Linked DNA regions of Homo sapiens. The protein of the gene in region 1 interacts with the protein of each later gene in a pairwise test. Each region holds a gene or a part of one and is shown on either strand. Other genes may lie near its edges. The genes, in order: MKRN3, ZFP57, HEXB, TADA2A, STMN3, PEX26 and PRKAA2.

What was found.
Region 2: the proteins of MKRN3 (region 1) and ZFP57 interact in binary tests that used the Homo sapiens proteins (3 or more experiments, as listed by UniProt).
Region 3: the proteins of MKRN3 (region 1) and HEXB interact in binary tests that used the Homo sapiens proteins (3 or more experiments, as listed by UniProt).
Region 4: the proteins of MKRN3 (region 1) and TADA2A interact in binary tests that used the Homo sapiens proteins (3 or more experiments, as listed by UniProt).
Region 5: the proteins of MKRN3 (region 1) and STMN3 interact in binary tests that used the Homo sapiens proteins (3 or more experiments, as listed by UniProt).
Region 6: the proteins of MKRN3 (region 1) and PEX26 interact in binary tests that used the Homo sapiens proteins (3 or more experiments, as listed by UniProt).
Region 7: the proteins of MKRN3 (region 1) and PRKAA2 interact in binary tests that used the Homo sapiens proteins (3 or more experiments, as listed by UniProt).

Annotation. Positions count from the first base shown.
Region 1 is NC_000015.10:23,564,268-23,568,473, reverse strand, and holds MKRN3 (E3 ubiquitin-protein ligase makorin-3), read right to left. Parts: upstream 2,801-4,206; 5' UTR 2,692-2,800; coding exon 1,168-2,691; 3' UTR 430-1,167; downstream 1-429. UniProt on the Homo sapiens protein: E3 ubiquitin ligase catalyzing the covalent attachment of ubiquitin moieties onto substrate proteins.
Region 2 is NC_000006.12:29,675,068-29,678,152, forward strand, and holds part of ZFP57 (zinc finger protein 57 homolog), read right to left. Parts: intron 2,300-3,085; 5' UTR 1,937-2,299; coding exon 1,814-1,936; intron 993-1,813; coding exon 866-992; intron 421-865; coding exon 319-420; intron 1-318. UniProt on the Homo sapiens protein: Transcription regulator required to maintain maternal and paternal gene imprinting, a process by which gene expression is restricted in a parent of origin-specific manner by epigenetic modification of genomic DNA and chromatin, including DNA methylation.
Region 3 is NC_000005.10:74,691,733-74,695,232, reverse strand, and holds part of HEXB (beta-hexosaminidase subunit beta isoform 1 preproprotein), read right to left. Parts: intron 1,595-3,500; coding exon 1,529-1,594; intron 1-1,528. UniProt on the Homo sapiens protein: Hydrolyzes the non-reducing end N-acetyl-D-hexosamine and/or sulfated N-acetyl-D-hexosamine of glycoconjugates, such as the oligosaccharide moieties from proteins and neutral glycolipids, or from certain mucopolysaccharides.
Region 4 is NC_000017.11:37,441,386-37,444,885, forward strand, and holds part of TADA2A (transcriptional adapter 2-alpha), read left to right. Parts: intron 1-1,178; coding exon 1,179-1,267; intron 1,268-3,310; coding exon 3,311-3,383; intron 3,384-3,500. UniProt on the Homo sapiens protein: Component of the ATAC complex, a complex with histone acetyltransferase activity on histones H3 and H4. Required for the function of some acidic activation domains, which activate transcription from a distant site. Binds double-stranded DNA.
Region 5 is NC_000020.11:63,643,425-63,646,924, forward strand, and holds part of STMN3 (stathmin-3), read right to left. Parts: intron 886-3,500; coding exon 790-885; intron 508-789; coding exon 332-507; exon of another isoform or gene 235-331; intron 1-234. UniProt on the Homo sapiens protein: Exhibits microtubule-destabilizing activity, which is antagonized by STAT3.
Region 6 is NC_000022.11:18,084,490-18,087,989, forward strand, and holds part of PEX26 (peroxisome assembly protein 26), read left to right. Parts: intron 1-622; coding exon 623-769; intron 770-3,482; coding exon 3,483-3,500. UniProt on the Homo sapiens protein: Peroxisomal docking factor that anchors PEX1 and PEX6 to peroxisome membranes. PEX26 is therefore required for the formation of the PEX1-PEX6 AAA ATPase complex, a complex that mediates the extraction of the PEX5 receptor from peroxisomal membrane.
Region 7 is NC_000001.11:56,651,814-56,655,313, reverse strand, and holds part of PRKAA2 (5'-AMP-activated protein kinase catalytic subunit alpha-2), read right to left. Parts: intron 1-3,500. UniProt on the Homo sapiens protein: Catalytic subunit of AMP-activated protein kinase (AMPK), an energy sensor protein kinase that plays a key role in regulating cellular energy metabolism.

The DNA.
Region 1 (4,206 bases):
ATATTTTATTATTTTATCTTTCCATTCTTTTATTCTCATTGGTTTTAATATTTTTGTTCTATTTTCCCTTTTATAATCTTGTTACTTTTATGTTGAACTCTTTTGTCAAAAGCCCCTTGTTGGGAAAGTCTAGAGACTTTGTATATCAAATACAAAGCACTGTGCCTCTGAGCCTAGGATTTGCTGTTACAAAGAATTAATGAGAAGGTGGCTAAACTGCATAGGAAAACCATTTCTGTATTTATAGAGTAAGCTATTAATGCCATTGTAAGAATTACCAATATAGTGCTTTGTAAGTCCTCTAAGATCTGCATCTGTCACATTTGGCCAGACCCACTTGAACAGTCCTTTTCATTAGATGCTAATTACTGGCTTCTGTGCGAGGGACAGAAAGATTATTCACACAACTCACATCCACACAACAGCCAATCCTGTTAGGCTTTGACCTTCAGCTTTCAGCTCTGTATTTACTTTATTACATAAACATAAATATTATATTGTGATGTATATTCTTTTATATATTTTTTTCAAATACATAACTCTTATACATATATATTTTTATATATATAATTCTTAAATATATATTTCCAAATATAAATTATTTCATGTCAAGCTAAACAGGATAAAAACATGTAAACATATACACTTGGTTTTGGTCAAGTAAAACACAAAATCACAAGTTCATCACAGTTTAACAAGTGCACTTGAAGGGGAAGGAGGGAAAGAACAAACTGTAAACAAACAGATGAGCAGCTGCAAAGCCCTGCAAGGGTCCATTTGTTAAGGCTATTATAGCACAAAGCTACTAGTTCAATTAAAACTTCTCCTTTCACTCTGCCACATTTACTCTTGAGGGTCTTCAAAATAAGTGTGGAAATTCAGTAAACACTACACTAGAACTGAGTTAATCCTGTTGACAACAGAGATGACAAAAAAAAGCCATAAGCTGACATTAATATTAATTTCACCAAAACAGTAACTTTAAGGACTTATTTTTTAACACAGATAATCACCATAATCCTAGGGGGAAAGATATGCAGAATAGACAAGAAAACAGAAGCACTGCCTCAACAGCCCCTGAAAGCAGTAAGAGTGTCAACACAGGGAAAACAGGCAATAGCAGACGACAGAACCTCAGCAGACTAGACCACATGCCACAGCACGATGCTACAGAATCAAATTGAAATATTCTTCCAGCTCATAATGAAGCAAGTCCCACTGGTCCTCAGAGAAGGGTAACTCATCTCTCAGTGAAAGAAACCGCTTAAACAACAGACTGGCCAGCCGAAGCACGACAAGCTCCTTCTTAATGCTTTTATAGAGCATGTTGCCCTCTCCCATTCGCACAGGCTCCACAAGTTGATGCCAGTATGCGCTGAATGACCCACCACCTGGCCCAGGAGGCTCATCTCCCCAGCCCTCAGGGTATTCATGCTTGTAAAAGCATGTGTCTCCAAATGGGCAGTTACCCCTGCCTTCCGCAAAATACCTGCAGGCCTTGTTGCTCATTGCCTCCTTGTATTGCTGAATAAGTTTCTGCTTCTCTTCCTCCTCCTCCACCCAGAACTCACTGGGAATGACCAATTCAGAGGTGACCCTGCACTGTGGGCAAGACTTGACGATCCTGTTCTCAAACTGTCTGGCACTTCTCCACCTGCGGATACACCTAATACAGAAGGAATGGTTGCAATTGGAAAGAATGCCAAAGCGGCGGTCATTGGGGTTGGCCTTCTCATAGACAACCTCCATGCAGATGCCACACACCTTGTCCATACCACGCTGCACAGCAAACGAGAGTTCCATATCTTTCTCGTGTGCTTCAATGCAGGCCCTCATATGTTCTTCCCTCTGGGCAGCATCCATGGGGTGCAAGGTCTGCAGCCCACACATGTCGCATATGTCTCCATGGAGGTACATACAGCTCTCCCCACGAAAGCAAACTCCCCTGGAAGCATAATAGCAAAACCGCAACCCACTGCCCACAGCCATCTGCTTCCTCTCAGTCTCTGAGCTCTGTAGAGGAGCCTCGGGGGCAGATGCAACCCAGCGGCCCCGGTAGGGCTGCCCTGGAACAAACTCAATGGCATCCGCCCAGCTTTCTACACCTGCTCCTCCAGCAGCTCCACGGTCTGCATTGTCTCTCTCGGCTTCAAAGAAACCCCTTTCAGCAGCCGAGCCAATCACAGGCAAGGAAAGGGAGGATGCAGCCGGGGGGGCTTCCGCCACTTCCTGAGTCGGGGGCTCGATGTGCGCAGCCGTGCTAGGGCCTCCACCTGCAGAGGCCCCAGGCGGCGAAACGCCACCCTCAGTGGCCATCTTCCGACCAGAAAGGTCGTGCGAATAGCGACAGTTCTCCCCCTCCTTGCACTGCCCATGTATATAATACCTGCAGATGATCTGCTTTGTCCAAATGCCGCTGCTTCGGCTTGGCAACGGACTGGGCCAGGCTCCTCCTCCTGAGGCTGGGGCAGGCCTCAGGCCTCCTCTGCGGAGGTGGGCAGGGACTGGAGCTACAGGGAAGGGGGCCCAGCCCCTTGCCGCATGTGGCAGGGCTGAATCTGGAGCAGCAGATTCCCCGGAGGGCTCACAGACGGGAAGGTCCGGCCCAGACACACCCTCCCTTGCTGCCTCAGCACCTGCCTGGGCCCCGGCTGCCTCGTGGGCTTCTGAGGGAGCTGCAGGCTCTTCCATGGCTGCTTTGGCACCCCGAAATGGTGCCAGAACCTCTCCGGTATTTTTTCTTTATGGGCTTGAGGCCCGGAATGGCGGCCGCGCTCGGAGGCTTCTCTGGGGGAAGTGTGCATCTCTTTTTCCTTCCCCCCTGCTTTTGGGTCCCTCTGACTGTGTGTTCCTACCTACTTCCGGGCACAGGCAGCATGGCGGACACTTCCTGTGGGGGCAACGTACGTGCTCTGCCTGGTTTTTACCGCAATTTTCCAATCTGACATATTTTTTCGTTCACACAGGCGGGGACCAACCCAGCCCCTTTTGTCTGCCTTCTGCCTCTGCTTCGCTGTGTTCCGGCAGTCCCTAAGTCCCTTCTCACACGATTTCCTCAGGAGAATGAGGTTTTACTTTAATCTCTTCTGGTTTCGGTCATGCACGCTTCGTTGTATTTTCGTATCTGTCTGCCTTAAAAAAAATATAATCCTATAGATTCTGAAACATTTCATCCATGAATTATATAAATTCTTTTTTTATTCACTCCATCTTATGTCTGTGGTTTTTTTCTTTTAATGCCCGATCGCGGCAGGAAGCTTTTTTCAATTCGTTCGGTTGACAAGGCGCCGTTTCTTTTGGTCTTTGTTTTCTGGGATTTCTGAGGGCTTACACTGGATACGCTTTTCACCAGCAAGGCATTAGCAGAGAGCACTTCTGATCCGAGGCTAAGTTAGCACCTTTCAGATGTCTTTCTTTATTGTGATTACTATGCTCATTTTCCCACTGTGTTAGAAGCGCCAGACTTCAACCAGTCCTGATGCTGGCCTAATAAGACACTGTCCCCTGCATGACCCAGGCTTTTATTTTCTCTACTGGTTTAATTCATGGCAGCCCTTTGTTTCCCTTCCTTTCTTTCAACCCCATCTGTGCTGTGTTGTGGCAGGACAGCCTTTCATAACATATCCTGTGCCATATTATCCACAAAGGAATGGTCTTTAATTTCCATGTATGAGCGTTTTGTCATTTTTGCAGATAAATGTAGTAGATTAATCATTTTTTTGTATTCCTACTTTGCTGAGAGTACGTATCATGACTGCATACTGAATTCTGTTATGTAGTTTTATACATTTTTTGAGACAATTTTGTTTTTCCCTTTATTCTCTTAATGTGATTATTTGCAGCTATGAGTTTCAAATATTTAACTAACCAATTTGTTTCTAATAAGAAGCCCTTCTGTCATGATATATCATTTTATATATTATTGGATTTTTTTTCTATAAGTTTCTTTGAGGAAATTTTGTTGCCTAAATCTGTAAAGTGGAAACATATCTGAATATTTATAATCACCCAAGTCAACAAATTAAATTATAATTAAGTAGGTAAAAGCAATGAAAGCAGAATGAAGCAAATAATAAGGGCAAGAAAAGCAATGAAGAAAAACAAATATTAAATAAGGGAAATAAATTAAGTAAAATCCCTTAAACTGCTTATTGAAGCCAGATAATTTCTGGTGAAATTTATCAAGGAAAAATGAAGAAGGCTCTA
Region 2 (3,085 bases), on another chromosome or scaffold:
GCTTGAACCCGGGAAGTGGAGGTTGCAGTAAGCCAAGATTGTGCCACTGCACTCCAGCCTGGCAACAGAGCGAGACTGTGTCTCAAAAAAAAAAAAAAAAAAAAAAAGAGAGAGAGAGAGAGACTTGGATCTTCAACTTGAAGTCAAGGGACTTGAGCCTATGATATTAAGCTCTCTTTCAACTCCAAGTCTGACCAGGCTGGACAGAGGTACACTAGGAGAGCATCTATAGAGCATTCATCCTCTTCATCAGCTCTCCATCCTTTCAGGGGTTATCCTGGGCCCTTTTCCCCTTCCTCCCTGCTTGGCAATTCTTACCTGAAAGGCCTTCTGTGTTTGGGAGATGGACAAACTCTCTCCACTGTTCCTCTTCTTGCTCAAGCTTGGTGATTAGCTCTGGCTTATGCAGAAAGATTCTGGCTGATGTGTGGGAATGAGAAAGAGTTGAGTTGGTCCCAGGTATGGCCCCTTCACATCTGATGGGGACAACAGGCTACCTCCTGTAGCCTTTGTTTAAGAACCATAACCTGGGACATGTAGATGCGGAAAGGAGACATTAAAAGGCCAGCTGCTAGCAAAGTACCTGGTTCTCAGGAGTGACTTAGTAAATATTTGTTTGATGAATGGAAAAATTTGCATATTTTGAGAACACTGTCATCATGTTACAAGTGTTATCTTTGCCTTCATGCAGGCTATCATTTCTTCTCTTTACCACTGAGCTTAGTGACTCAGATCTTTCACACCTGGAAAGCATAGAACCAGGGGTCAGTGAAACTAATTGTAAGCTGATCTACCTGTCCAGGGAAACCAGATGTTCCAGGGCCCTTAGGACAGGGGGCTTGCTGAGGGAAGCCCAGCCTCTTACCCACAGATGTTAGATTCTTAAAGGTTTCCGACATAACATCCTGGTAAAGGACCCTCTGGCTGGCATCTAGACAGTCCCACTCTTCCTGGGTGAAATTCACTGCCACATCCTCAAAGGTGACTGGCTTCTGGAAGAACAGGAGAGACTCAAGAAGTTTATATAAATATATATGTGTGTGTGTGTGTGTGTGTGTACAAGATTAACATCCAGTCTCAAGATTCAGAGAATTAAAACCTAAGAGAAAGATAAAACCATGGAAGGAAGAGAGAAATATTAAAAGACAGACACAAGGCCAGCAACTGTGAAGTATAGAAAGGAAAGGAGGCCGGACGCGGTGGCTCACGCCTGTAATCCCAGCACTTTGGGAGGCTGAGGCAGGCAGATCACGAGGTCGGGAGTTCGAGACCAGCCTGACCAATATGGTGAAACCTGGTCTCTGCTAAAAACACAAAAATTAGCTGGGCATGGTGGCGCATGCCTGTAATCCCAGCTACTCAGGAGGCTGAGGCAGGAGAATTGCTTGAGCCCGGGAGGCAGAGGTAGCAGTGAGCCAAGATCGCGCCACCGCACTCCAGCCTGGGTGACAGAGCGAGACTCCGTCTCAAAAAAAAAAAAAAGAAAAAAAAAAAAAGGAAAGGAAAGATGAAGAGAAAGGGAGAAAGATAAGATGTGGGGGAGAGGAAAGAGGATATGCAGATATGCAGAATATAAACAGGAAAGCAAAGCGAAGGAAAAAATGCTGCCACTCTAACAAATTTCAGGAAGTACTCCATGAAGGATGCCAGGATGGTGCGGGAGATGGAGAAAGGTCTTGCAGCTCCTTTTTCTGGATGTCGTTCAGTCTGGAACAATCTGAGATTTCATTTGACCTGCAGGCAGGAGTATGTATGAAAGAGCTCCTGGAGTCCAGGACCTGGACCCCACCTCTCTCTAGCTTAGTCTCCTCACCTTCTTCACCCGTGCCTCCCTCCAGCAATCTCTCTTCATGGCTTCCTGCAGGGTGGCAGCTACCTCGCCCACCCATGGGAGCGTCTTCTGTACAGGTTCGATTGGCTTCAGCTGTTCAAACATCTTCTCTTCTGTGGTGTCTCTTTCTAGCTTTATCCACTCCTGGCCTGGTGCCCAGGCCTGACTGGATTCCTTCCTGGGGCTATCTACCTCCCAGTAACTGGGCAGATGGAGAGGCCCAGCAAAGGCCCCAGGGTTTGATGTGGCTTCCTGTGACAAATGTATCTGCTCCAAGAGGCTGTCTTCCTTTTTTGTTCTGCTGTCCAAATTCTCCTCTTCCACAATTGAGAACAATTTTGCTTCCCTCAAAGCTGGGCCACCGAGTTCAGGGCCCTGGTCACCCTTGGCTCACCAGCTGCCATTGTTTAGTAACAACACCAGCCTGGGCTAGGTGTCTGCCGTCTGTTCTACCCTGCTTCTAGAAACCTGAGGTCAGAGAAAAACAAAACATATCAGCAAGAGGGAGGGTAAGAAACAGCTTCCTTATTTGGTCAGGGAATGCCAGCAGTTACTAAACCCCTACAGTGTGCCACTGGATGCTCTCAGCAATGAGGTAACAATTACTGGCCCTGTCTTAAGGACCTAATGCAGAGATGCTAAATAATTTTCCAAGGACAAGTGGACATTCTTGATCTACAAAAGTTAATGTTTAAACCTAATGTTAATGTTAGACTCAGTACCATTGGAAATCATGTAGCTGGGGTAACCAGGCTAGGATCTGTCACAGATCACCTCGAGTGAGTCTCTTTATTCTTTCTGACTTGGTTTCATCAGAAATGTGAGAATAAAGGAGACACTCTCTAAGATCTCTTCCATGACCAAAATTATACACACACACACACACACACACACACACAATTCTGTGATCTGGATTTTCAATACATGTAGTAGTTCCCCTTTATCATGGTTTTGCTTTCCAATGCTTCAGTTACCCATGGTCAACCATGGTTCAAAAATATTAAATGAAAAATTCCGGAGGACAGGCACAGTGGCTCACACCTGTAATCCCAGCATTTTGGGAGGCTGAGGTAGGCAGATCATCTGAGGTCAGGAGTTCGAGATCAGCCTGGTCAACATGGTGAAACCCTGTCTCTACTAAAAATACAAAAAGAAAATAGCTGGGCATAGTGGCACACATCTGTAATCCCAGCAACTCAGGAGGCTGAGGCAGGAGAATCACTTGAACCCTGGAGGTGGACGTTGCCATGAGCC
Region 3 (3,500 bases), on another chromosome or scaffold:
GATTCTGTCTCAAAAAAAAAAAAAAAAAAAAGCGTCTCTTCTCCTTAGCAGACGCAGATGAGACAGGCAGATTGGACTAATAAAAGCTTAAAATCACTAATATTATACATAAATAAAATTACATTTGTAGTAAATATCTAGATATTTTCATATTCTATTTTGAATAAAATTATAATCTTATGGTATAAAATATATAGCATAACAATGATTATTTTAGGTAACACTCTGAGTCAGATTCCAAATCTTTATTTATTTTGTTTTTTGAGATGGAGTTTTGCTCTGTCACCAAGGCTGGAATGCAGTGGTGCCAGCTCAGCTCACTGCAACCTCCCTCTCCCAGGTTCAAGCAATTCTCCTGCCTCACCCTCCCAAGTAGTTGGGATTACAGGCATGCGCCACCATGCCTGGCTCATTTTTTTTTTGTATTTTTAGTAGAGATGGGATTTCACCATGTTGGCCAGTCTGGTCTCGAACTCCTGACCTCAAGTGATCTGCCTGCCTCAACCTCCCAAAGTGGTGGGATTACAGGTGTGAGTGACTATGATCAATCCCAAGCCTTTATTTTAATGACTAAGTTTGGTTAGTTCATGTTTTTTTAAATTCCCTTTCTAAAAACTCTGCTATTCGGAAGTCAGTACAGTATCTTATCTGCCTAGAAAGAAAGGTAAAAGAAACTTTTGAACAGCAAATGTCCTGAGGTCAAACTTTGAAGTTCAGACTCTGAAATTCTCATGAGAAGCTTTTCAAGTTACTCCCTGCCCACTGCCTCTAACCAACTCTATAGCATATTTGCCTTTTGACACTGTTCCTTATACAAACTTAGTTATGTTTCTAAATCTACAGGAATTTAAAATTAGGGAAGAGAGATGCTTGCTTCTGAAGTCAACAGAAGTGATAGCTGAAACAAAATTCCCTAATCAGGACAGGTTGGGGCCATGTGTAGTGCTATAAACATTACAGTCCCAAGAGCATCAATGAATTACAGCACTGCAGGAATGTAATAACCTTCAAACATTTTTTGAGAGGTCAAATGAGTTTTCTCCCATGCTGTATTTATTTATTTGTATTTTTTTGAGACAGGGGTCTTGCTCTGTTGCCCAGCCTGGAATGCAGTGGTGTGATCTAGGCTCGCTGCAGCCTCAACGTCCTGGACTCAAGCAATCCTCCCACCTCAGCCTCCAGAGTAGCTGGGACTATAGGTCCACACCACTATGCCTGGCTAATTTGTGTACTTTTTGTAGAGATGGAGTTGCACCATGTTGCCCAGGCTGGTCTCAGACTTCTGAGCTCAGGCAATCATCACCTACCTCAGCCTCTCGAAGTGCTGGGATTACAGGCGTGAGCCACTGTGCTGACCTCTCCCATGCTTTATGTAGTACATGTTCAATGGAAATCATTTTGGAACTACATAACAAAGCATTCTGTAAAGGATCTAAGGCGGCAAAGTTTTGCTGTGCTTAATTTCACAAAGCACCAACTGAAAATTTTCCTTTACTGGAAAGTAACAATGAAACTGCATGGAACTTACCTCGTAATGCTCCCCAAACTCTGTTGGCCTTAAGGACAGCCACTGGTTCTTTCACAAGTAAAGTATCTGTATTGAGGATTTAAAATCACACACACACTTTTGTTAATCCCTCAATGACACACAATAAGTTTCCTAAACATGTCATTGATATTTCTGGACTATTATTTTCTCCCAAGCACATGACCTATTTCTCTAACTGCCTCCTGTACATCTCCATTTGGATGTCCTGCAGGTTCCTTCGACTCCACATGCCCCAACAGAACTCTTCCCTCCCTCCTCCGCACACTTCAACCTGCTGGTCTTCTGTGTTCCTCATTTCAGTGAGTCACAGCACCACCATCCAGTCACTTGAGTCACTCAGAACGGGAATTTGGGTGTCAACTCCATGTTTCCTCATTTTCCTAAAAGAGTTAGTCTCTCCAACTTCTCCTCAACAGAGTAGGGTCCTAGTTAAGCTAAGAGTTTAGTTGAAAGTGCAAACATTCCTCAGTTCCTACTAATCCTTGGTAACGCCCTAGGTGTCGCTCAAATCTACTCCCTTTAAGGCCAGAGAGTATCTCCACTCTTTTGCATTCAGAATTTTCTACTTGCCCTGTACCCACCTTCCCTCAGTATCATCCAAATCTGCCTTAAGACTTACTCTCCAAATCCCTTTAGCTTAGTTCAGCTTTGTCTCACTCAATAAAAATAATTCAGCTTTGTCCCACTCAATTAAAAGTTCACATCATCCAGAATGGGACTCCAGTTAGCTGCTTCTGGTGAGAGGCTAATCTTTCAATCTTTGAAGCACACTCTAAGGTTGGCCCAATAGTCATTTAGTCTTTTAGAGAGGTCTGGAGTGGAATCAACCACATAGTAAACCCACAGATGGTAAAGAGATTGAAAGCTAAAGGGTGTAACAGCTTTGGACTTTGCCACGGCAAAGACACTGATGGGCTGGAGATTAATGATTTAATACTGTGTCCTCTGGGGTGGTTTATCACCTTCTACCACCACCACCATTCAGATGCTCACAGAATAGTTAGCTGCAGGTAGGCAAAAGTGCTCTATCAGTAGTGTGAGCATCTCAGGTGATAGTCTTCTGACAAGATAGCCTTTTCCATTAGATAACCACACTCCATTAGATGAGTTAGCCAATGCCAGGCTAAGAACTATATTGCTATTTATGAGCATAGTCTAATTATGTTTCCTCTACATCTATAGCAAATTCTTGTGTTGTTGTTGAGACAGAGTCTCACTGTGCTGCCCAGGCTGGAGTGGAGTGGCACAATCACGGTTCATTGCAGCCTCGACCTCCCAAGTAGCTGGGACTGTAGGCATGTGCCACCACGCCTGGCTAATTTTTCTCTTTCTTTTTTTTTTTTTTTTTTGTAGAGACAGGGTTTTGCCATGTTGCCCAGGCTGGTCTTGAACTCCTGGGCTCAAGCCATCTACCGGCCTCAGCCTCCCAAAGTGTTGGGATTACAGGTGTCAGCTACTGTACCCAGCCTGTATCAAATTCTTAATCAGCTACCTAGAGCTCACTGCTCCATTGGTCACTGTTTAAAAACATTTTTTTGCCACATTCTAGTTTTGAGATCTTCCAGAAATAGCACAGTCACCTAAAAAACATTAATATATTGCATATATTTGATACCAATTATTTTCTAATAGTTGACAACTGGCTGATATTAAACAGGACTGTAATTCAACTCAGTGGAAAATACATATAACAATTAGAAATTTGGTTTTCTAAATATATGGACACATAGCTATAGAATTTCCATTTTTACTTCACAACCAAGTTATTAGTGTTAACAATGATCACTTCCCTGAAGTGTGAAAGGAATTATATCATTGACTTTTCAGTTAGCCCATTCTGTATCTTTTTGCACCATAAATACATTTGTTTTGGAGGGTGAATATACAAATGACATATCTATATATTCTGTTTAAAAGCAATATAATATAGATAAGGCTAAAATCTCCTTTG
Region 4 (3,500 bases), on another chromosome or scaffold:
TTATTAATTGCCTTGGTGTCAAGCCCAAGAATCAGTTTGTTATTTTTGTTCGCTTGGTTGTGTCAGTGATGGCGAACTTTTTAATCTCATGTGCGTGTGGGACCAGTGGGTCTCTTAATAAAATATAACCAAAAACATGATGAATTATAAATGACCATCTTTCCTGAATGACTCTCAGGGTACAAGTAATGAGATATGAATGTTTTCACTTCCCTTTTCTCTTTCCTCATACTCTCTAGAAACAGTTTTATAGCTGACTAACTTAAAGGCTGGTAATACCTCCTTTTTTTTTTTTTTTGGAGACAGAGTCTCGCTGTGTCTCCCAGGCTGGAGTGCAGTGGCACAACCTCGGCTTACTGCAACCTCCACCTCCAGGGTTCAAACGATTCTCGTGCCTCAGCCTCCTGAGTAGCTGGTACCACAGGTGCATGCCACCACACCTGGCTAATTTTTTGTATTTTTAGTAGAGAAAAGGTTTTGCTGTGTTGGCGAGGCTGGTCTCGAACTCCTGACCTTATGATCTGCCCGCCTCGGCCTCCCAAAGTGTTGGGATTACAGGTGTGAGCCACCGTGCCTGGTTGATACCTCCTATTTGGATAGCACTTTGGTGTTAGCACTTTGTTCTCAAATCCATTAGACCATTTGTTTCCTAACAGCAACCCAGTGAGATAGGCAGAGCAAGTGCTTTTGTTTTACATTCGAGAAGACCGATGCAGACAGGTTAGTTTGTGCAGGGTCATGGGACTAGTGTGTGTTGGAGCTAGGACTTAATTTCAGCTAACTTCCAATTCCAGTGTTTGTTTTTTTCCCGTCTTTTTTTTTTTTTTTTTTTTTTGCCTCTCAGTTGGATGAGTTTTGTAAATTGAAGTTCATCCTAAGGGATAAGGGAGCCGAAGCCAACGGTAAATATTTAGGTTCTGTAATATTAAAGGAAAAAAGTCATGATTTCCTTTCATTTTAGGAAAGCAGAAATCAGAAGAAATTTCCCCATATTTACTTAAAGGATTGCCTGAGTCTTGGTTTTTCTTTTTAAAAAACCTGTTTTCATAATACTTTATCTTTTTCACATTTCCTTTTATAAAAACCATTTTAAATTTTATTTATTCTTGGACTATTATGTCATTTTTTTCATGCCAATATTGTATTAGTTAACTCAGAAACCTTCTAAATTCTTCCAGCTACAGATGACCCTCCCCGACCTACCTTTGACTCCTTGCTTTCTCGGGACATGGCCGGGTACATGCCAGCTCGAGCAGATTTCATTGAGGTAGGATAAATGTGTTTTTAGCACAAAGTAGGAAAAATTCATTTTTGTTTCTCATGAGCCTTCTGTCTCACCCATAGATTCCATACCACTAAAAGGAGATTTTTCAAGGCACTATAATTTGTAGGACCTTTAGGCAGCCACATTTTCTTAGGTTTGAGTGCCTTTTCTCATTTGTAAACATTTTCACATATGGAACAGTAAAAATTCTTTAAACAAACAACCTATTTCTGGCCAGGCTCAGTGGCTTACACCTGTAATCCCAGCACTTTGGGAGCTGAGAATGGAGGATCGCTTGAGTCCAGGTGTTCGAGACTAGCCTGGGCAACGTAGTGAGACCCTGTCTCTACAAAAAATAAAAAATTAGCTGGGTGTGGTGGTGCATGCCTGTAGTCCCAACTACTTGGCAGGCTGATATGGGAGGATCACTTGAGCCTGGGAGGTTAAGGCTGTAGCGAGTGGTGATCATTCCACTAAACTGCACCCTAGACAACAGAGTAAGACCCTGTCTCCAAAAAACAAAAAAACCCCAGCAAACCCACCTCTTAAGTTGCATCAGTGCTGGCTTCCACTTCCTTAGGTATGAAATTCCTATAGTCTGGTTCTTTTTTTTTTTTTTTGAGACAGAGTTTTTGCTCTTGTTGCCCAGGCTGGAGTGCAATGGCATGGTCTTGGCCCATTGCAACCTCCACTTCCTGGGTTCAAGCGATTCTCCTGTCTCAGCCTCCCAAGTAGCTGAGACTACAGGTTCCTGCCACCATGCCTGGCTAATTTTTGTATTTTTAGTAGAGATAGGGTTTCACCATGTTGGCCAGGCTGGTCTCAAACTCCTGACCTCAGGCAATCCACCAGCCTCGGCCTCCCAAAGTGCTAGGATTACAGGCGTGAGCCACTGCACCTGGCTTGTAGTCTGGTTCTTATTGTACATCTAGGGGCTTTCAAGATTGTACTGTATCAGGGGTTGACAAACTTATTCTATTAAAGGCCAGATAGTAAATATTTTAGGTTTAGTATGCTATAAAGTTTCTATTGTAACTATACTTTGTCATTATTGTGCTAAAGCAGCATGGGATAATATAAGAATAAATGAATACGCCTGTGTTCCAGTAAAACTTTATGTACAAAAACAGACAGTAGGCTGAATAGTAGTTTACTGATTCCTGTACTATATCCACAAGTATATAAAGAATGATGAATGTGTATAAAAACTATATGTTCCTTGCTCAGCTATGGAATTAAAAGACATGTGAATGTAGCCACAAGTCTCTTGATTTATCATCTAATTCACAACTTGAAAGATAGTTTGGCCAAATGCGGTAGCTTACACCTGTAAATCCCAGCACTTTGGGAGGCTGAGGCAGGCGGATTGCTTGAGCTCAGGAGTTTGAGACCAGCCTGGGCAACATGGCAAAACGCTGTTTCTTCAACAACAACAACAAAAAAAACCCGAAACCAAAAATTAACTTGAGTGTGATGGCACATGCCTGTAGACCCAGCTGCTTGAGAGGCTGAGGCAAGAGGATCACTTGAGCCTGGGGGTTCGAGGCTGCAGTGAGCCAAGATCACACCACTGCACTCCAGCCTGAGTGACAGAGTAAGACCCTGTTTCCAAAAAAAAAAAAAAAAGAATGAATTGACTTTATTTATTTATTTCAGAGACAGGCTCTTGCTCTGTTTCCCAGGCAGTCTTGAACTCCTGGTCTCAAGTGATTTTTCCACCTAAATCTCCTGAGTAGCTGGGATTATAGGTGCATGCTACTGTGCCCAGCTCAGACTAATTTTAGTTTTTAGAGCAGTATGTTTAGCTTCATTCCTAAACTCATAACTATTCCAATTTTTTGTTGTCACTACTGCTTGTAAGCCTCTTAGATTTTTCCCATGACTTCCTATTACCTGTGCCAGTATTGTGGCCTTTTGCCATATTTAGACTTTTTAAACAACTGTTTGCTTGTGTTTTTTCTGTTTACTTCTAAAGCATGGCTGCTGTAAAGACACTAATCAAAGCCGATGGGTTTGGGGTGGGGATTTTTTTGTTCCCCTAAACAGGAATTTGACAATTATGCAGAATGGGACTTGAGAGACATTGATTTTGTTGAAGATGACTCGGACATTTTACATGGTAACAGTTTATTTTGTCAAATGTTTATCGAGCGCCAACTGTGTGATGACACTGTCTTGGGTGCTAGGAATTGAAGGATGAATAGAACATGTCCCCTGCCCTTATAGAATTCAGAAA
Region 5 (3,500 bases), on another chromosome or scaffold:
GTGTGCACCACCACACCTGGCTAATTTTGTATTTTTAGTACAGATGGGGTTTCACCATGTTGGCCAGGCTGATCTTGAACTTCCAACCTCAAGTGATCTGCCTGCCTCAGCTTCCCAAAGTTCTGGGATTACAGGCGTGAGCCACCACACCCGGCCTCTCCCCATCCCATTCTTATCTCTCAGAAAGAGGCCCAGGGAGCCACAGCCCCTCCTGCTCCAGGCCAAGGCACTGACCAAGCCTGTCCGGGAGCACCCTGCTTCTTGCAGGCCCTGTCCCCGTGGGCCGCCTCCGTTGAAACTCCTGGGGGGTGGGGGATGGAGGACTCCTTGCCTTCCTCCGCTCCTCGGCTGCCTCCAGCCGCTTTTGCAGCTCCTCCAGGGAGGTGTCCTTCTTCTTGGGTGGGGAGGAGAGCATAGGGCTCTCTGGGGACAGGTCAGAAGGGGACTTGAGGATGACCTCGAAGCTCTGGCCTGAGGCCCGCTTGTCCAGCTGCTTCACCTCCATGTCTGCAGGGCAAGACCAGAGTAGAGCTTCAGAGGCCCGGCCAGGGCATGGCGTGGGCTGAGCGGGATGCTCCCAGCACACATCCAACCCCAGGGCTGGGCGAGAGGGGGTGGCTGCTCCCGCAGGAATCCCAGGCTTCAGCCCCCAGGATGGGCCCCTTCCCCCTAGAACCTCCCTCTCCAGAGGCAGCCAGGACGGGAGTTCAGAGAGACTGCCGGAGGCCGGGGGAAAAGGTGAGGTGGGCAGGCACCGCAGGGAAGGGCAGGCGGCAGCCAGGCACTCACCCCCGTACTGGTAGACGGTATTGGGGTGCGGCTGTGTGTAGAAGCAGGAGCAGATGAGCGACAGCACCGACAGCTCCTTCATCTTCTCCTTGTAGGCTGTGGGCACAAGGCTGGGCTGAGCAAGCACCACTGGGGCCTGCCCACCTGGGCCCCCGTTTTCCCTCCCCATGGCTGCCTCTATCATGTCTCTGTGAGACACGGAGCTGCCCAGCACGCTCTCTTGTGTGTCTCCACACCGCCGGCCCCTTCGTCTCTCCAGCTCTCTCGCTTCCAGACGTCGGCACTGTCTCCGTGGTGTGTCCCCTGCCTTCTGTCTCTCTCGCCCTCTGCCTCTCCCCGCTTTTCCTCTCTCTCGGCATTAATGTCTGTCTCATCTTCCACACTGACTTGTTTCTCCATCCTTCTCCTGCCTGCTGTGGTCTGAATGTTTCCATTACCCAAAACTCATGTGTTGAAATCGTAACCCCAAGGTGCCGGTGTGCGGAGGTGAGGCATTCGGAGGGAATTAGGCCATGAGGATAGAGCCCTCCTAAGTGGCCCCAGAGTGGGGCTTCAGAGAACTCCCTCACCTTCCATCATGTGAGGACACAGCCAGAAGACGCCACCCGTCTATGTACCAGGAGGCGAGACCTCTCCAGGCACCGACTCTGCCGGCACCTTGATCCTGGACTTTCTGGCCTCCAGAGCGATGGGAAATAAGTTCCTGTCGTCTATAAACCACTCAGTCTCAGGTACCTGCCCAGACTGACAAAGTGGCTACCCCTGCCTGTCTGGGTCTCTGTTTACCTTCTGTGTGTCTGACTCTGTCACTGTCATTGTATCTTTCTGTGTCTCTGGGGGTAGCCCCTGACTCTGTCTTTCTCCCTGAGTGCATCTTTCTGTGATTCCTTGTCACTGTGTGTCTTTCTGACTCTTACCTCCCTCTGTCCCGCTACTTCTCTCTCCCCTCCTCCTCCTTCCCACTCCTCGCCAGCTCAAGCAGGCAAGATTTACTCATGACGGGACCAGCACAGATGCAAACCCTCTGTGGGCAGGACTTTCTTGGGCTGTAAACCTGGATGAAGCCCTCAGACCCTCCTTTTTCCTTCCCAATGATTGTGTGGTCACCTTGAGATGAAACCAGGCCCTCTCCAGGCACATGCTCTCTGTCTATCTAGGGCTGGGCTTGGGCCACTGATGCCACCAAGGAGCAAGGGAGGGAAGCTGTCCGTTCAGCACCACAGCCAGCCCTCTTGCCCATTCAGGTCAATCAAGTGCCCACCAGCCAGTGTCCCTGCTGCCCAACCCAAACCAGAAGCAAGCCGGGCTCCTGTGGCCCTGTGCCCTGTCAGGGGAAGAGGAAGGCGCCTGCTGTCACAGTGAAAATAATTTAGCTCTTTTGGTCTATTCAGGGCGAACCTCATTCCTAAGCAGACACGCTGGCCCGGTTTCTCACTAGTGCTCGATAATCCTTTTGGCTGGGTGCAGTGGCTCATTTAACTGTAATCCCAGCACTTTGGGAGGCCAAGGCAGGTGGAACACCTGAGGTCAGGAGTTTGAGACCAGCCTGACCAACATGGTGAAACCCGATCTCTACTAAAAATATAAAAATTAGCCAGGCGTGGTGGCAGGCACCTGTAATCCTAGCTACTTGGGAGGCTGAGGCAGGAGAATCGCTTGAACCTGGGAGGCGGAGGTTGCAGTGAGCCGAGGTCGCGCCATCGCACTCCAGCCTGGGTGACAGTGTGAGACTCCGTCTCAAAACAGAAAGAAAAAGAGAGAGAGGAAGAAAGGAAGGAGGGAGGGAGGGAGGAAAAGAAGAAAGGAAAGGAAAGGAAGACAGACAAGGCAGAAGTAATCAAGCCTTTCATGGTGAGCTGGGTCTTCTGGTGACAGTGCAGAGAATGGTCTGTCCTGACTTAAATTTCCTGGTGACCTACACTTTTCTGGACAGAGCAGCACAGAGCCCAAGAGGGTGTAAGGAGGAGCAGAAAGGAATCCCAGGGTGGGCAGGCCCGTGCGAGAGCCTTTGGGGGAAGGAATGAGACTTTGAGCCGGGAAGCGAGGCAAAGCTACCTGTCTTGGTCATTGTCTTCAGGGAGGGAGATGGAGGGGGACCAGGTGGGGGAGCCTCACAGGGGACTTTGGTCTGACTTGTCAAGTTTTCTTTTTTTCTTTTTGAGATGGAGTCTTGCACTGTTGCCCAGGCTGCAGTGCAGTGGTGCGATCTCGGCTCACCGCAAGCTCCGCCTCCTGGGTTCACACCATTCTCCTGCCTCAGCCTCCCGAGTAGCTGGGACCACAGGCACCGCCACCACACCCAGCTAATTTTTTGTATTTTTAGTAGAGACGGGGTTTCACTATATTAGCCAGGATAGTCTCGATCTCCTGACCTCGTGATCCGCCCGCCTCGACCTCCCAAAGTGCTGGGATTACAGGTGTGAGCCACTGTGCCTGGCCTACTTTATTTTTTAGAAACAGGACTGTGCTCTGTTGCCCATGCTGGAGTGTAGGGTGCAGCTGTGCGGTTCACTGCAGCCTTGAACTTCTGGGCTTGACGGATCCTGCCATCTTAGCAGCTGGGACTACAGGTGCATGCCAGCACACCAGTTTTCTTTTTTTTTTTATCTCTGCTCACTGCAATTCCGCCTCCTGGGTTCTAGCGATTCTCCTGCCTCAGCCTCCCAAGTAGCAGGGATTACACGCACATGCCACCACACCCGGCTAATTTT
Region 6 (3,500 bases), on another chromosome or scaffold:
GCCTTGGCCTCCCAAAGTGCTGGGATTACTGGCATGAGCCACTGCGCCTGGCCTGAAAGGTTCTGAAAGGTTTTAAAAAACTTTTACAAAGATGCATTCAATATAGTAAATAATATATAGTCAAAATAAGTAATAAACACGAGGAAAACAATTTATATTCATGAGATTTGCAAGAGTATGTGCAGTTAAGGAATGAAGGCTTTAGCCAATACCTAATACCCTTTTACTAAACTCTTTTTTTTTTTTTTTTGAGACGGAGTTTTGCTCTTGTTGCCCAAGCTGGAGTGCAATGGCACGATCTTGGCTCACTGCAGCCTCCACCTCCCAGATTCAAGTGATTCTCGTGCCTCAGGCTCCCAAGTAGCTGGGACTACAGGCGCACACCACCACGCCTGGCTAATTTTTGTATTTTTAGTAGAGACGGGGTTTCACCATGTTAGCCAGGATGGTCTCGATCTCCTGACCTTGTGATCCACCTGCCTCAGCCTCCCAAAGTGCTGGGATTACAGGCATGAGCCACTGCGCCTGGCCTGCTCAGGTCTTAGAAGCAAGCACAGAGGTCGGGGTCAGGGAAGCTGATTCCCATGACATCCCTGAAGCTGTGCTCTGTCTCCCTGGCCAGGCTCTGTCTCCCACAAGTTCCTGTCACTACCGATGTTGGTTCGCCAGCTTTGGGACTCTGCGGTGAGCCACTTCTTTTCTCTGCCCTTCAAAAAGAGTCTCCTGGCTGCCTTGATCCTCTGTCTCCTGGTGGTGAGATTTGATCCAGGTAAGAGGTGGAGACTCTCCCCTGTCCTTCCTGGGAAGGGGTTGTTGCCAGGGCTGGGCCTGTGGGAGTGGGTGTTTGTCAGAGTCCTACTGGGGAGGGGAGTCTCTCCTATGACATTTCCCCTGAGTCTGTTCCACAAGGAGGAATTGCTAGACTGGGCATGAGCCAGCCCCACCCATAAGGAGAGGCCAGTCCTGGAGTCTATGAGAGCAGCCAGGAGAAAGTCCACTTGGCCCTGCTGACTCCTGAACATGGACTGAGTCATAGTCCTCCACTTTTTCTAGGGCTGAACTCTGACTAGAACCTCAGAATTTAAAAAAACTTCCTCTTGGCCAGGCACGGTGGCTCACGCCTGTAATCCCAGCACTTTGGGAGGCCAAGGCAGGCAGATCACAAGGTCAGGAAATCGAGACCAGCCTGGCCAACATGGTAAAGCCCCATCTCTACTAAAGATACAAAAAAAATTAGCCAGGTGTAGTGGCACATGCCTGTAGTCCCAGCTACTTGGGAGGTTGAGGCAGGAGAATAGCTTGAACCCGGGAGGCGGAGGTTGCAGTGAGCCAAGATCGCACTGCTGCACTCCAGCCTGGGCAATAGAGCGAGACTCTGTCTCAAAACAAAAAACAAAAAACAAAAAAACTTCCGCTCATCAGAATATCTACAAAAGTGTTAATTCAAGTATTAATGTCTCATGAAGTGTTAATTCAAAGCAAGTTGTAAATGAAAAACTCATACATTTTAGAAAATGTGGAAAATAGGCCGGACATGGTGGCTCACACCTGTAATCCCAGCACTATGGGAGGCCAAGGAGGGTGGATCACCTGAGGTCAGGAGTTCGAGAACAGCCTGGCCAATATGGTGAAACCCCGTCTCTACTAAAAATACAAAAATTAGCCAGGTGTGGTGGTGCGTGCCTGTAATCCCAGCAACTGGGGAGGGTGAGGCAGGGAGCATTGCTTGAACCCAGGAGGCGGAGGTTGCAGTGAGCCAAGATTGCACTGTTGCCCTCTGGCCTGGGCTACAAGAGCGAAACTCTGTCTCAAAAAAGAAAAAAAAATGTGGAAAATAGAGAAAAGTATAAAGAAGGGCATAGAAATCTGCTACTCTGCTGTGCTTTCAGTCTTTTTCTATGGATATAGAGATTGTAGGCAGTTACATGTCACACATATGCTTTCAAGCATGGCCTTAAATCGCTAACTATTCCAGTTCACAGGAATGCCCCTAAGTAATTTAACAACCCCTATTATTGAACATTTGGGTGATTATTCTGTTTTCTGCCTCGCTGTGAAGAAGGAATGAGCTCCCTAAGTGATATTTGGGAACAACCCCAGTTATTTCCTGAGGATTGACCCCTCAGGTGCATGAAGCCAAACTTGGCACTCGCTCTTTTAGATTTTTTTGTGTTACTCAGTGTGAGTTATGTTCTAATCTCTACTCTTCTCATGAATTTAGACTTAGAATATGATTAAATAAGTTTCAAAATTTAAGAGGAAATCAGAAACCCTTATACTGGTCCCTTCAAATGGTTTGTCTATTTTGAGAAGTGCCATTTGTTAACTTAGTCTTTAGATTCTCCCTGTTTCCCCATTTCTCTTTCTCTTATTCAGTGAGCTTTTTTAAAATATTTATTTATTTATTTTTATTTTTATTTTATTTTATTTATTTAGTTTTTGATACTGGGTCTTTCTCTGTTGCCCAGGCTGGAGTGCACCGGCGTGATCTTGGCTCACTGCAACCTCTGCCTCCTAGGCTCAAGCGATCTTCTCTCCTCAGCCTCCCAAGTAACTGGGACTACAGGCATGTGCCTCCATGCCCGGCTAATTTTTTATTTTTATTTTTGAGACAGAGTCTTGCTCTGTTGCCCAGGTTGCAGTGGCGTGATCTCGGCTTACTGCAACCTCCGCCTCCTGGGTTCAAGCGATTCTCCTGCCTCAGTATCCCAAGTAGCTGGGATTACAGGCACACACCACCATGCCAGGCTACATTTTGTATTTTTAGTAGAGACGGGGTTTCGCCATGTTTGCCAGGCTGGTCTCCAACTTCTGGCCTTAAGTGATCCTCTCACCTCAGCCTCCCACAGTGCTGGGATTATAGGCACAAGCCATCATGCCTGGCCAGCGAGGTTTCCGTCACATAGCTCAGAGTTGTCCTTCTAACCCGTCTGCTGAATGCTGAGCAGGGATCCCCTGTGGACGACTCTGTTTGCTTTACAAAGAAGTCACGAGTTAGCGCTCGGAATGCTCAGTATCATCAGCGTTCATCCCTGGCCACCTCCTGACTGATACAGATTTAGAAACTCTTTATGATTCTTTATGGTTCCCGTAAGCCCTTTAGTCTCGTAAACCCTGGTCTCCTAGTGGGGATGGCATGAGGACATTTGAGCCTGCTCTTTCCAAGGCTGCTTCAGAAGGGCCTGGCCCAGTGGCCCTGACCCTCAGCAGCAGGCCCGACTCATTGGAGTGATGATGGTGGGGGAGGAGAACCTGCACCTGCAGGCTGAGGATCGCATGAGCCCCAGAGATTGAGGCTGCAGTGAGCTGAACACAGACTGCACTGTACTCTAGCCTAGGTGACAGAGCGAGACCCTGTCTCTAAAAAAAACAAAACAAAACCAACTATGTGTAATTGGTAGTGGAGTCTCCCAGGGTGGGAGATGGCAGAGTGACAGGTGAGAGGGGTGGGACGTTCACTGTAGTCTCCCTCTGCCCTGCAGCTTCCCCTTCCTCCCTGC
Region 7 (3,500 bases), on another chromosome or scaffold:
TGAGACCCTGTCTCTACAAAAAAAAAAAAAAAATATATATATATAGATATATAAATACATACATTGTGAGAAACAGTAAAATGATTTTTTTAAAAAGAAAATGAAAATAACTTATACTTATCATATTGCCCAAGTAAAACAAGCATTTAGAAAAAAAAAAGTATGGTATATTTAAAAATGTTAGATCTATTGTTTTATGACAGTCAGTTTAACTTACCTTATAATTCATTTATAATTTAGAAACTGAGATGTTGAATAAGAACACACTGTTCTTGTTTTAATAGTATATATAATCTGAAGAAAAATGATTCTGAAAAAACAAAGTATATTAATAACATACTAACATTCAGAGTAAGAGACATATAGCAAGATTTTATAAATTATCTTTAATCATATAAAAGGCTGTTTAAAAAGATCTAATGGCAGATTAAAAAGAGAATTATGAATATTTTAAAAACAAAGGTACCACCCAAAGAAATACATAAAATTTATCAGAGGCAAACACTGCCAAACATAAGACACCACTTAAGCAAGAATACTGTTCCCTTGAAGGGGTGAAGAAGGCTTCTATTATTAGCAGAGATAACTGCCTGAAATTCTTTCCTTAATAACACCATACTAAAAATAAAAAGGTTCATCATATTTCAAAATAAACACATTGCTTTTCATACGCATTTCAATCACTTCAATAACAGATAAAAATAAAAGCCTGATTTAAGGTTTACATTTCTCTTATATTTGTAGTTGATAAATACACTAGGTAGATTTGCTCTCATTTTTATAACATATTTAATGCTTTAAGGGTCTTGTGCCAGCCACTTACTCATTATTTCTTAAAGGATTTGAGATTAGATCTTCCTGCTAGGTCAAATTAAATTATCTGCTTGGCTTCAAAAATTATTAATACTTCCTCTACAAAATATTTTCTCTATCATTTAGGAAACCACAGGAATCTCAGAAGAATAAATGGGGTGGTATTATTATTACAAAGCAGTACCAAATGCTTTCAAGAAAGCTAACATGGACCACAAGGTAAGTGGACATTTTGGGATGTTTTTACAAAAAGAAGCAAGATAAAGCATGGTTGTGTCAGCATGAAAAAGGGAGAAAGCTCATGGAACTGAGGTAATTACCTCAATATATGACCAAACTACAAAATCCTTTCTAATTTATATGGATATGTTAAGATAAAGTTTGGTAGAAAAGCATTTTTAGCTCAGAGTGTATTATCTGAACTGAAAATATATGTATAGCCTCATTTTGGTTCTACTACAAGTGGACCAGGACTTTAAAATGACCCATTCATACTAAATGCCATCTGCTGCCCACACTTTCCCCCTTCCCAGCTTATGCCTCTTTCCTCCAAGAGTTTCTATGATGGATACCATGGGATCTGGAATACATACATACATATATATGTATGTATACAAAATATATATAATGTGTTTGTGCCTTCCAAGTGATGCACAGAAGATGGTGAAAAGTGAGCAGCTTCTAGAGAATTACAGGTTTCTGAACACATTCATTTGCAGAAATAAGACCAGAGTAAAACAAGACAGGAGGTAGTGAATTCTTCCCTCTCTCTCATCAATAAATTTCTGGTCTCAGAACCAGATCACAGATTATTCTCATAGTTCAGCTAATTGTGGGTTTAAGTACATAATGGTGTCTACATACACAAAAGTACATAAGTACTTCTGAGTGCTTTTTCATCTATGTACATTTTCTCATGTACTTCTCACAACACTAGAAGAGAACATATGGTATTATTCCCATTTTTACAGATTGAGTTTGACCACATAGCTGGTTTATGACAAAACAAAGGTTCCACACCAGGTCTTCTAAGTTCAACATACTACAGAGAGTATTTATACTACATCAGGCTGCCTTTGTGGACATACTATGAAAATAGCTACCATTTATAACATTGTTTCCTATTTAAAATACCCTTTGAAAGTCAATCAACTGGCTACACCAAATGAACAAAATCCATTCAGATATTAAGGACACAATTCAAAAATCATATAAATTATATATATATTATATATATCTATATATATCAGCAAGAGAAACCTAAATAGCACGTATTTACCTAATTGTGAGAATAATTCAACTGATTTTAATTCAATCACTAATCTAGTATTTGAGAAGAAACATAATTTCATTATTTGGAACCAATATTTAACACTTGTTTAGAATTTGCATAATTTCAAAAGTAAAATCAATTTACTGTGAATGTGTGTACATTCACTTTTATTTAACTATTACTTCCATTTCATTCTTGTTTCATTCATCTTCCATATTTGGGAAAAAGCAAATTACATGACTTAGTCATACAGGATATTGTTTTTAATATAAACATTAATAAGTATCATAAAGCACAGATAAAGTAGTCATTAAGAGCTTTCTTCAACCTAGGCAACCACAAAATAGGGGCAGATTACTACAGCTCTATCTCAATGTTGGTGTGAGAACTGAAGGCATTTCAATGGAAAGTAAGTACTTTCTAACACAGGGTGCAGAATTTACCTACAATTGCCATGCATCTCACCATCTCCACAAGTGTCATCTATCTGTATAGCATTTTATCTTTTCCAAAGCCATTTTATATACCTCAACTCATTTGATCTTCATAACTATTCCAGAAGGTAGGCAGGACAAGTATGATCATTGCCATATTACGAAGGAGGAAACAAAGGCTCAGCATCTAATGGTTTTTCCCAAAGGTGAGACAACTGGTAGTAGAAATGGAATTAATTCCAGAGCTAATACCTTCTTATACCAATGTTTTCTTCTAGAACATCAAATCATTTGTACAAGTTCTCTTTAGTCTGGTTACTAAAGGTTACTGGCAATCACTAGTCAAGATTACCTTTATAGCCTGTAATCCCAGCACTTTGGGAGGCCGAGGCAGGTGGATCACAAGGTCAAGAGAGCAAGACCATCCTGGCTAACACGGTGAAACCCTGTCTCTACCAAAAATACAGAAAATTAGCCGGGTGAGGCCGGGCGCAATAGCTCACGCCTTTACTCCCAGCACTTTGGGAAGCTGAGGCGGGCGTATTACGAGGTCAGGAGATCGAGACCATCCTGGCCAACATGGTGAAACCCCATCTCTACTACAATACAAAAAATTAGCAGGGCGTGGTGGTGCACGCCTGTAGTCCCAGCTAGTCGGGAGGCCGAGGCAGTGGAATCGCTTGAACCCAGGAGGCAGAGGTTGTAGTGAGCCGAGATCGCGCCACTGCACTCCAGACTGGTGACAGAGCAAGATTCTGTCTCCAAAAAAAAAAAAAAAAAAAAAATTAGCCAGGCGTGGTGGCAGGCGCCTGTAGTCTCAGCTACTGGGGAGGCTGAGGCAAGAGAATGGCGTGAACCCAGGAGGCGGAGCTTGCAGTGAGCTGAGATAGCACCACTGCACTCCAGCCTGGGCGACAGAGCCAGACTAGTCTCAAAAAAAAAAAAAAGATTACTTTCATATCAGTAAACACACTGAAATC